Linked DNA regions of Homo sapiens: region 2 is linked to region 1. Evidence: fine-mapped expression QTL. A gene starts in region 1. The other region holds a variant in brackets. All regions are shown on one strand. Distances are from middle to middle. Region 1 holds the start of SLC7A3 (solute carrier family 7 member 3). Region 2 overlaps TEX11 (testis expressed 11).

Region 1 (4,388 bases):
TTGTACTCTTTAAAAGACTGGATTTCATGGCATTTGGATTTTATCTCTGTGATAAATAATCAATCTCATAATCCAATCAATCACCTAATCTAAGCAACCAGATCATATACACTAATATATCGTTCCAAATATGTATCAAGTTTTTCTTGAGTACTTTCCATGTGCCAGGCAGGAAGACTTGACTTCATAATCTCATCTAAGCATCACAACAACCTTGTGAAATATGTATATTATGTCCAGAAACTGAGGCTCAGGGATGTTAGGTAATCCACAGTGGCTGAGCTGTGAGTTTAACCTAGGTGCAATTCCAAACACAGCACTCCTAACGTCTATGTAATAAGGTTTCAGTTGTATAGTGTGTGTTTTCTTTCCCTAGTTAGATTAGGACTAGGAGGGCAAGGATTTTATTTTATGTTTCCTTCATAGTCTCTTCATTGCTGTACCAGCTACTACACATAGTGCTCAATAAATGCTCAATAAATACTTAATGAATGCCAAATGGAGCTGCAGCTGGTTGAAAATACCAATTCTTTCAGAACGGATTTAGATTTTAGATTCATGGGTAATATATTCATCATGGATCATTAAAAGAAGCAAGGATATTTGAGTCCATCCTTAGTCCCCAAGATGTCTTGGTGGAGCAGGGACCACACTTTCACAACCTTTGGTGCTTTCTTATGAGTAAGAATTGATTGGGTCAGATGGATTATGGATCTGACCCAATGTGATCATTCGTAGATTCTTCGGGTCCTTTTCTGTTTCCTAGTATCTCCTAGCCTAAACGGACCTACCCTGCTGCTGATGCCTCTCCCTGTTTGTCTTTCCTTGTGGCCACATCCCTCTTCTTGTTCATTTGAATAAGATATGGTGCCTACGGGAGGCAGGCATTGAAGTCCAACAGGCCAGGTTTTATCAAAGGTGGTCAACAATAATTATGGTGTGGTGTCAAACAAGTCATGCCTCTGAGCCTCAGCTTACACATCAATAAAATGGAACTAAACAAGCTTCCTCCTCCAAGATGTTGGTATTGTCAGAATTTCACATTTAATAGTTTAATATTTATAGGCAGCTGGAGACACATTATAGAGAGATTGGGGCCTATAAATCAATTTAGACTGGATTAATTATCTGTATACAGGTGGCTTGAAATCATCTTCCATTCTCCTGCTGCCTGCATTAGAAACACCCACAGCTGAGCGTGAGAGCTGAAGGGTCAGGGTCAGATGTGTAGACAAGAAAGCTAAGGAAGAAAGACTGAGAGTGAGGTGGAGACTCCCCTGCTGTGTTCCGCTTCACTCCTGACACACACACACACACACACACACACACACACACACACACGCACCCAACTCCCCCCCATCACACCCCACCTACCTTCCCCATTCCTGCCCAGAATCACTGGTCCTAACAGGGCACAGAGGTGGAAAATCTCATGGGTTCTTTGGCCAGGAAGCCTCTTATTGTCCTGTTCTGACGACCAGCGAGACAAATGGGAAAAGACTGCCCTCCCCCTTTTCTCGCTCCCCGGCACGCCAGGCTTGCTAGTGAGGATGGGACGCAGTCTCAGGCCCCACGCAATCCTTTTGCAAAGCCAAGAAGTGTGTGTGTTGTGTGTGTGTGTGTGTGTGTGTGTGTGTGTGTGTGTGTGTATTGTGTGTAGCGAGGAGGATTGGGGGTGGGATCCCATGACGTTACCGGCTCCGCCTCCTGGTGTATATAAGGGGCGCTTGGCGCGCAACGACCCCAAGCCGCAGCTTTGAAGCCTGAGCGGCCGAACTCGGCAGCTCCAACCCAACTCGGCTTAACTCCGCCTCACCGAGCCCAGTCCAAGACTCTGTGCTCCCTAGGTTTGCAACAGCTCTCTGGTAAGCGTTGGGGACCCACACGTGTGTCGGAGGGGGGACGGCGAGGGTCCGGGCGTACCTAGGATTCTCTGGCAACCATGGCATGCAGTTGCATCAACGGGGCCGTGACCTGTTGCTGGCGAGACCCCCGCCCCGGGAGTTAGGGCTCCCGTCTCCACCCCAGCTCCAAACCATTTCTAGATGGGGGCAGGAAAATCTGGGACCTGAGTCGGGGGGCATCGGGTGGAACCCTTCCTCTCTGCTGAGAGGAGAGTGCGAGCAATCTCGGGCTGCCCTGGGGCCCCTCTGGGGGCGCATCTCCAAATCTTTAGATGTCGAAGCCCCGCCTCGCTGTTGATGCTTGCAGGTCAGCCTAGCAGGGCTTGGGAGGAAGTAGGGGAACATTTGCTTACTCCCCTGGGCGACAGCTGCGCTAGTTGAGCAGTGTGGGCTTGGTGAGGAGGGATGGAATTGAGTCGGTGCTCACTTTTAATCTGCAGCGAGGTTGGTCCCCTCTCCCTCTGGGGGGTCTGGGGGCTGTGTCTGTTTGAAGCCCCGGGGGAAGCCCCTGGGTGGAGCTCTGTTTAATTCCCAAATAGCCACAGGCCAAGGAACTGACACATTAGGTTTCAAGATTCCTGGGTTGAGATTAGGATAAACCCTATCAGTTTCTGGCAAGAGAAAGAGACCTAATATTGATTGAGCACTTACTAGGCGCCAGCCACTCTACTTCAGGGGGCTTTCACGTGCCATTTCTGAAATTAGCCCTTCCAAAAACCTTGTAAGGTATTGTAATTCCTACTTGTTTATGAAGAAACTGAGGTTAGAGGTAAAGTGACTTGCCTTTGTCCCTTCCATATCCCCGTCCTCATTTCCCAATAGCTCCTTTGCTTGGTGGAGGGGGTCTTGTAATTCGCTTTCAGAGTTTAGGGATAATGAGCCCTGTCGAGGGGTTTTTGTCTTGTTTTTCACCAGATCATCTTCTTCAATTCCTGCTAGGATGCCGTGGCAAGCATTTCGCAGATTTGGTCAAAAGCTGGTACGCAGACGTACACTGGAGTCAGGCATGGCTGAGACTCGCCTTGCCAGATGCCTAAGCACCCTGGATTTAGTGGCCCTGGGTGTGGGCAGCACATTGGGTGCAGGCGTGTATGTCCTAGCTGGCGAGGTGGCCAAAGATAAAGCAGGGCCATCCATTGTGATCTGCTTTTTGGTGGCTGCCCTGTCTTCTGTGTTGGCTGGGCTGTGCTATGCGGAGTTTGGTGCCCGGGTTCCCCGTTCTGGTTCGGCATATCTCTACAGCTATGTCACTGTGGGTGAACTCTGGGCCTTCACCACTGGCTGGAACCTCATCCTCTCCTATGTCATTGGTGAGATATGGTGGGGGAGGGAGGGAACTGCACAGCCAGCAAAGGGGTTTTTGGTCAGGAAATCTGGGTGGAAGTATTCTTTATATTATTCACAGGACCTCAATCTCCCTAAATGTGCGGGTTTGCTGGGGGTCTGGGGGGGGGTGTTGAAGGTGTGGAGAAATTGCTCATTCTATCCATCTCCGTCCTGGTTTCCTTAATTAAGTGAATGGTTTTGGTTCTTAAAAAGTAATAATAGGCCAGGTGCAGTGGCTCACGCCTATAATCCCAACACTTTGGGAAGCCGAGGCAGACAGATCACCTGAGGTCAGGAGTTCAAGACCAGCCTGGCCAACCTGGTGAAACCCTGTCTCTACTAAAAATACAAAAGTTAGCCGCGCAGGGTGGCTTACACCTGTAGTCCCAACTACTCAGGAGGTTGAGGCAGGAGAATCTCTTGAACCTAGGAGGCAGAGGTTGCAGGGAGAGGAGATTGTGCCACTGCACTCCATCCTGGGTGACAGAGTGAGACTTGGTCTCAAAACAAAACAAAAGTAAGAATAGGTGAAAAAGGCAGGGACTTGTGTGAGCCTGGGGTCTGGGAAGAAGGGAACTTGGCCACATGTTTCTCTCTCTGCTACACCAGGTACAGCCAGTGTGGCCCGGGCCTGGAGCTCTGCTTTTGACAACCTGATTGGGAACCACATCTCTAAGACTCTGCAGGGGTCCATTGCACTGCACGTGCCCCATGTCCTTGCAGAATATCCAGATTTCTTTGCTTTGGGCCTCGTGTTGCTGCTCACTGGTGAGGCAAAGAGCAGGGTATAATGGTGGGGGTTGGGCCAGGAGGGGCTAGTCCTTGGGGCCAGGGATAAGGATGGGGGATGGGCCTGAGAAAGGCTTAAGGGAGGTGATAATGGTGGGGAAGAAGAAAAGCTGGGAAGGAACCTAGAGGCAGGGAAACAAAGCTTGGACTGAAGACTTTCTGGGAGTCCTGAATGCATTTCTCCCACAGGATTGTTGGCTCTCGGGGCTAGTGAGTCGGCCCTGGTTACCAAAGTGTTCACAGGCGTGAACCTTTTGGTTCTTGGGTTCGTCATGATCTCTGGCTTCGTTAAGGGGGACGTGCACAACTGGAAGCTCACAGAAGAGGACTACGAATTGGCCATGGCTGAACTCAATGACACCTATAGGT
Region 2 (4,388 bases), 100 kb after region 1:
TTGCCCATTTTTTCATTGGGTTATTTGTTTATTTGCTATTGCAGTGTTTGAGTTCCTTGTATATTTTGGAGATTAACTCTTTATCAGACGTGTGATTTGTGGATATTTTCTCCTATTCTGTAGGTTGTCTCTTCACTCTGTTGATTGTTTCCTTTGCTGTGCAGAGCATTTTGGTTTGGTGCAATCTCATTTGCCTATTTTTGCTTTTGTCACCTGTGGGGGTCATATCCAAAAAAATCATTGACCAGGGGTCTATCTCTCTCTTTCCCTCTAATAATTGCTTTATATATCTGAGTGCTCCAGTGTTGGGTGCATGTGTATGTAAAATTGTTATAGCCTCTTGCTGAATTTTCCCCTTTATCCTTATATAGTGACCTTTTTTTCTCTCTCCTTAAAGTTTTTGTCTTGAAATCCATTTTGTCTGATATAAGTATAGGTACTCCTGCTCTTTCGTGGTTTCCGTTGTCATGGAATATCTTTTTCCATCCGTTTATTTTCAATCTGTGTGTATCTTCATAGGGGAAATGTGTTTCTTATAGGCAAGAGATCATTGGGTCTTGTTTTTTTTTAATCCATTCAGCCACTCTATGTCCTTTGATTGGAGAGTTTAGTCTATTTACATTCAGTGTTATTACTGATAAGTAAAGACTTACTCCTGCCACTTTGTTATTTGTTTTCTGATTGTTTTTGGTTTTCTATTTTTTATTCTATTATATTTCTTTCTTTCCTGTCTTCCTTTTAGTGAAGGCGATTTTCACTGGTGGTATGATTTAATTTCTTCCTTTTTATTTTTTTATTTTCGTTGTTTTTCAGTTTCAGGTTACCGTGAGCCTTGCAAATGCTATCTTATAATCCATTATTTTAAATTGATGACAGTGTAACACTGATTGTATTAACAAAGAGCCAAACACACACATACACACACACACACACACAAACTAATAAAAACTCTACACTTTAACTTTGTTCCCCTGATTAACTTTTTTTGTTTTTCTTTATGTCTTATGGTACTGTCCATGTTTTGAAAAGTTGTTGTGGTTATTATTTCTGTTTGGTTCATCATTTATTCTTTCTACTTAAGTCAAGAGAAGTTTACACCCCACAATTTCAGTGTGATACCATTCTGTCTTTTTCTGTGTGCTTACTGTTTTTTTTTTTTTTTTTTTTTGAGACGGAATGTTGCTCTGTCACCCAGGCTGGAGTGCAGTGGCATGATCTTGGCTCACTGCAACATCCGCCTCCTGGGTTCAAGTAATTCTCCTGCCTCAGCCTCCCAAGTAGCTGGAACTACAGGTGCATGCCACCACACCCGGATAATTTTTGTATTTTTAGTAGAGACGGGGTTTCACCATATTGGTCAGGCTGGTCTCGAACTCCTGACCTCAGGCGATCCACCTGCCTCGGCCTCCCAAAGTGCTGGGATTACAGGCATGAGCCACTGTTTCCAGCTGTCCAGCCTTGTGCTTACTATTACCCATGAGTTTTGTACCTTCAGGTGATTTCTTCTTGCTCATTAACATCCTTTTCTTTCAGATTGAACAACTCCCTTTAGCATTTCTTGTAGGACAGGTCTGGTGTTCATGAAATCCCTCAGCTTTTGTTTGTCTGGGAAAGTCTTTATTTCTCCCTCATGTTTGAAGGATACTTTCTGCTGGATATACTATCCTAGGGTAAACATTTTTTTTTCTCCTTCAGCACTTTAAATATGTCATGCCTCTCTTTCCTGGCCTGTAAAGTTTCTGCTGATAAGTTGGCTGCCAGATGTATTGAAGTTCGATTGTATGTGATTTTTTTTCTTCTCTTTTACTGTTTTTGGGATTCTTTCTTTATCCTTGACCTTTGGGAGTTTGATTATTAAATGCCTTGAGGTGTTCTTCTTTGGGTTAAATCTGCTTAGTGTTCTATAACCTTCTTATACTTGAATGTTGATATCTTTCTCCAGGTTTGGGATATTCTCTGATATTATCTCTTCGAATAAACTTCTTACCCATAGCTCTTTCCCTACCTCCTCTTTAAGGCCAATGGATCTTAGATTTACCCTTTTGAGGCTATTTTCTAGATCATGTAGGTATGCTTCATGCTTTTTTATTTTTTTTCTTTTGTCTCCTCTGATTGTGTATTTTCAAATAGCCTGTCTTGAAGCTCACTAGTTTTCTTCTGCTTGATCAATTCTGCTGCTAAGAGACTGATGCATTCTTAAGCATGTCAATTGCATTTTCAACTCCAGCATTTCTGCTTGATTCTTTTAAATTATTTCAGTCTCTTTGTTAAATTTATCTGATAGAATTCTGAATTCCTTCTTTGTGTTATTTCAAATTTCTTGCAGTTTCTTCAAAATAGCTATTTTGAATTTTCTGTCCGAAAAGTCACATATCTCTGTTTCTGCAGAACTGGTCCCTGGTGCCATATTTAATTCATTTGGTGAAGTCATGTTTTCCTGGATGGTGTTGATGCTTGTAGATATTCATCGGTGTCTGGGCATTGAAGAGTTAGGTATTTATTGTAGTCTTCTCAATCTAGGCTTGCTCATGCCAGTCCTTCTTGGGAAGGCCTTCCAGTTATTCAAAGAGACTTGGACCCCAAGCCTAATAATGCTGTGTTTCTTGTAGACCCATAAAGGGTACTCCTTGATGACCTTGGATAACATCTGAAAGAATTCTCTGGATTACCAGGCAGAAACTCTTGTTCTTTACCCTTACTTTCTCTGAAAC[A/G]TATGGAGTCACTGTCTCTGTGTTGAGCTGGGGGTGTGGTGATGCAAGCACTGGGCCTGTGCTGTGTCAGACTTGAAGCCAGCACAGCACTGGACCTTGCCCAAGGAAGGCCCTTCCCTTTAGGATGGTGAGTTCCCCCACAACCCAGGTGTGTCCAAAGATGCTCTCTGGGAGCCAGGGATTGGAGTCAGAAACTTGAGCAATTTACCTGTTTTATTCTACTGCAGTTAAGCTGGCACTCAAATCACAATACAAAGCCCTTCCCACTCTTCCCTCCCTTTCCACAGGCAGAGGAGTCTCTCCCTGTGGCCGCCACCATCAGTGGTCCATGGGGTGTTCTGCTAGGCCACCACTGATGTTCACATAAAACCCAAGGTCTCTTCCATCAGCTTGTGGTGAATGCTGCCAGGCCTGGGACTCACCCTTCAGGGCAGTGGGCTCTCCTGTGGCCCAGGACGAGAAATACTGTCCAAGAGGCTACACCTGGATTTGGGGACCCCAAGAGCCAAGCTGGTACCTAGAGTGCAGTACAAAGTCCTCTTTACTTTTCCTGGGCTTTTCTCAAACAAAAGGAGTCTTTCACTGGAGCCACCACAGCTGGGAATGTGCTGGGTGTCCCCTGAAGCCAGCACTTCTCAGAGCCCAAGGCCCATGGTGTACTCCCTGGGTCGTTAATGGTTATTCCAGGGTTATACCAAGGGTTCTTTAGTCAGCAGGTGATTAATCCTGCCAGGACTGGATCCTTTCCTTCAAGGCAGTGGGTTCCCTTTTGGCCCAGGATGTGTCTAGAAATGTGGTTTGAGAGCTAGGTCCTGGAATGGGGGCCTCACTACTCTGCCCAGTGCCCTGTCCTACTGTGGCTGAGCTGGTATCCAAGATGCTAGACAAAGTCCTCTTTACTCTTCCCTTCCCTCTACTTAGGCAGAAGGAAGGAGTCACTTTCATTGCTACGAGCTTTATTGCCTGGGGTTGGGGAAGGGATGGTGCAAGCCCTCCCTTTGCTGTGCCAGCTGTTGTCTCCCTAGGTCACGTGGCAAGTTCACTGGCTCTAAGCCCAGCCTTACACTAGGAGTTGCCTAGGAATTGCAGTCCTTGTGCCCTAGACTGCCACTCAAGTTTATGTAGGACCCCAGAGCACTTCAGCCCACAGTGACGAGGCTTGCCAAGAAACTCAAGTTCCCACCACTGGGATGAGGGTAATTCTCCTGTGGCTAAGGCTGGTCCAAACACTCCCTCTGTGCACAAGCGCTGGCTGAACCCAGCATGACTTTTTTCTCTACTGTGACTGTGCAGCACTGAGTTCAATGTAAAGTTCCCCAGCTGCTGTGCTCTTCCTCTGCAATGTGCACAGATTCTCTCTCTGCACTGCATAGCTGCTGCCAGGGAAGCGGGGAGGGGTGGCCTTGGAGATTGAAGACTGTTTATCCTGCCCTCTTCAATGCCTCTTTCCACAATATGTAGTTAAAACCGGGTACTGTGAGTGTTCACCTGGTTTTGGTTCTTGTGATTGTGCTTTTCTGTGTGCAGACAGTTGTTAAAATTTGGTGTTCCAGTGGAGGGTACAAACAATGCAGGCTTTTATTCCATGATCTTGCCCCACCCTTATTTTAGCTTTTTTTTTTTTTTTGACAAGGAGTTTCGCTCTTGTTGCCCAGGCTGGAGTGCAATGGCACAGTC

What was found. PIP is the estimated chance that this variant, and not a neighbour inherited with it, causes the effect.
Region 2: its variant is the best candidate, but not a certain one, in a credible set for the expression of SLC7A3 in whole blood (TOPMed, PIP 0.86).

What each region holds. Positions count from the first base shown.
Region 1 is chrX:70,928,454-70,932,841 of GRCh38, reverse strand. SLC7A3 (solute carrier family 7 member 3) reads left to right here and starts at 1,746. Exons shown (of 12, transcript NM_032803.6): 1 at 1,746-1,865; 2 at 2,820-3,214; 3 at 3,840-3,998; 4 at 4,209-4,386. The coding sequence starts at 2,845. RefSeq lists an enhancer at 2,002-2,503.
Region 2 is chrX:70,826,262-70,830,649 of GRCh38, reverse strand. All of the region lies in intron 8 of TEX11 (testis expressed 11), which reads left to right. Among named protein-coding and RNA genes, the nearest start is that of SNORD3E, 18 kb to the left of the region's middle. The variant A/G (reference allele first, on the strand shown) is at 2,712.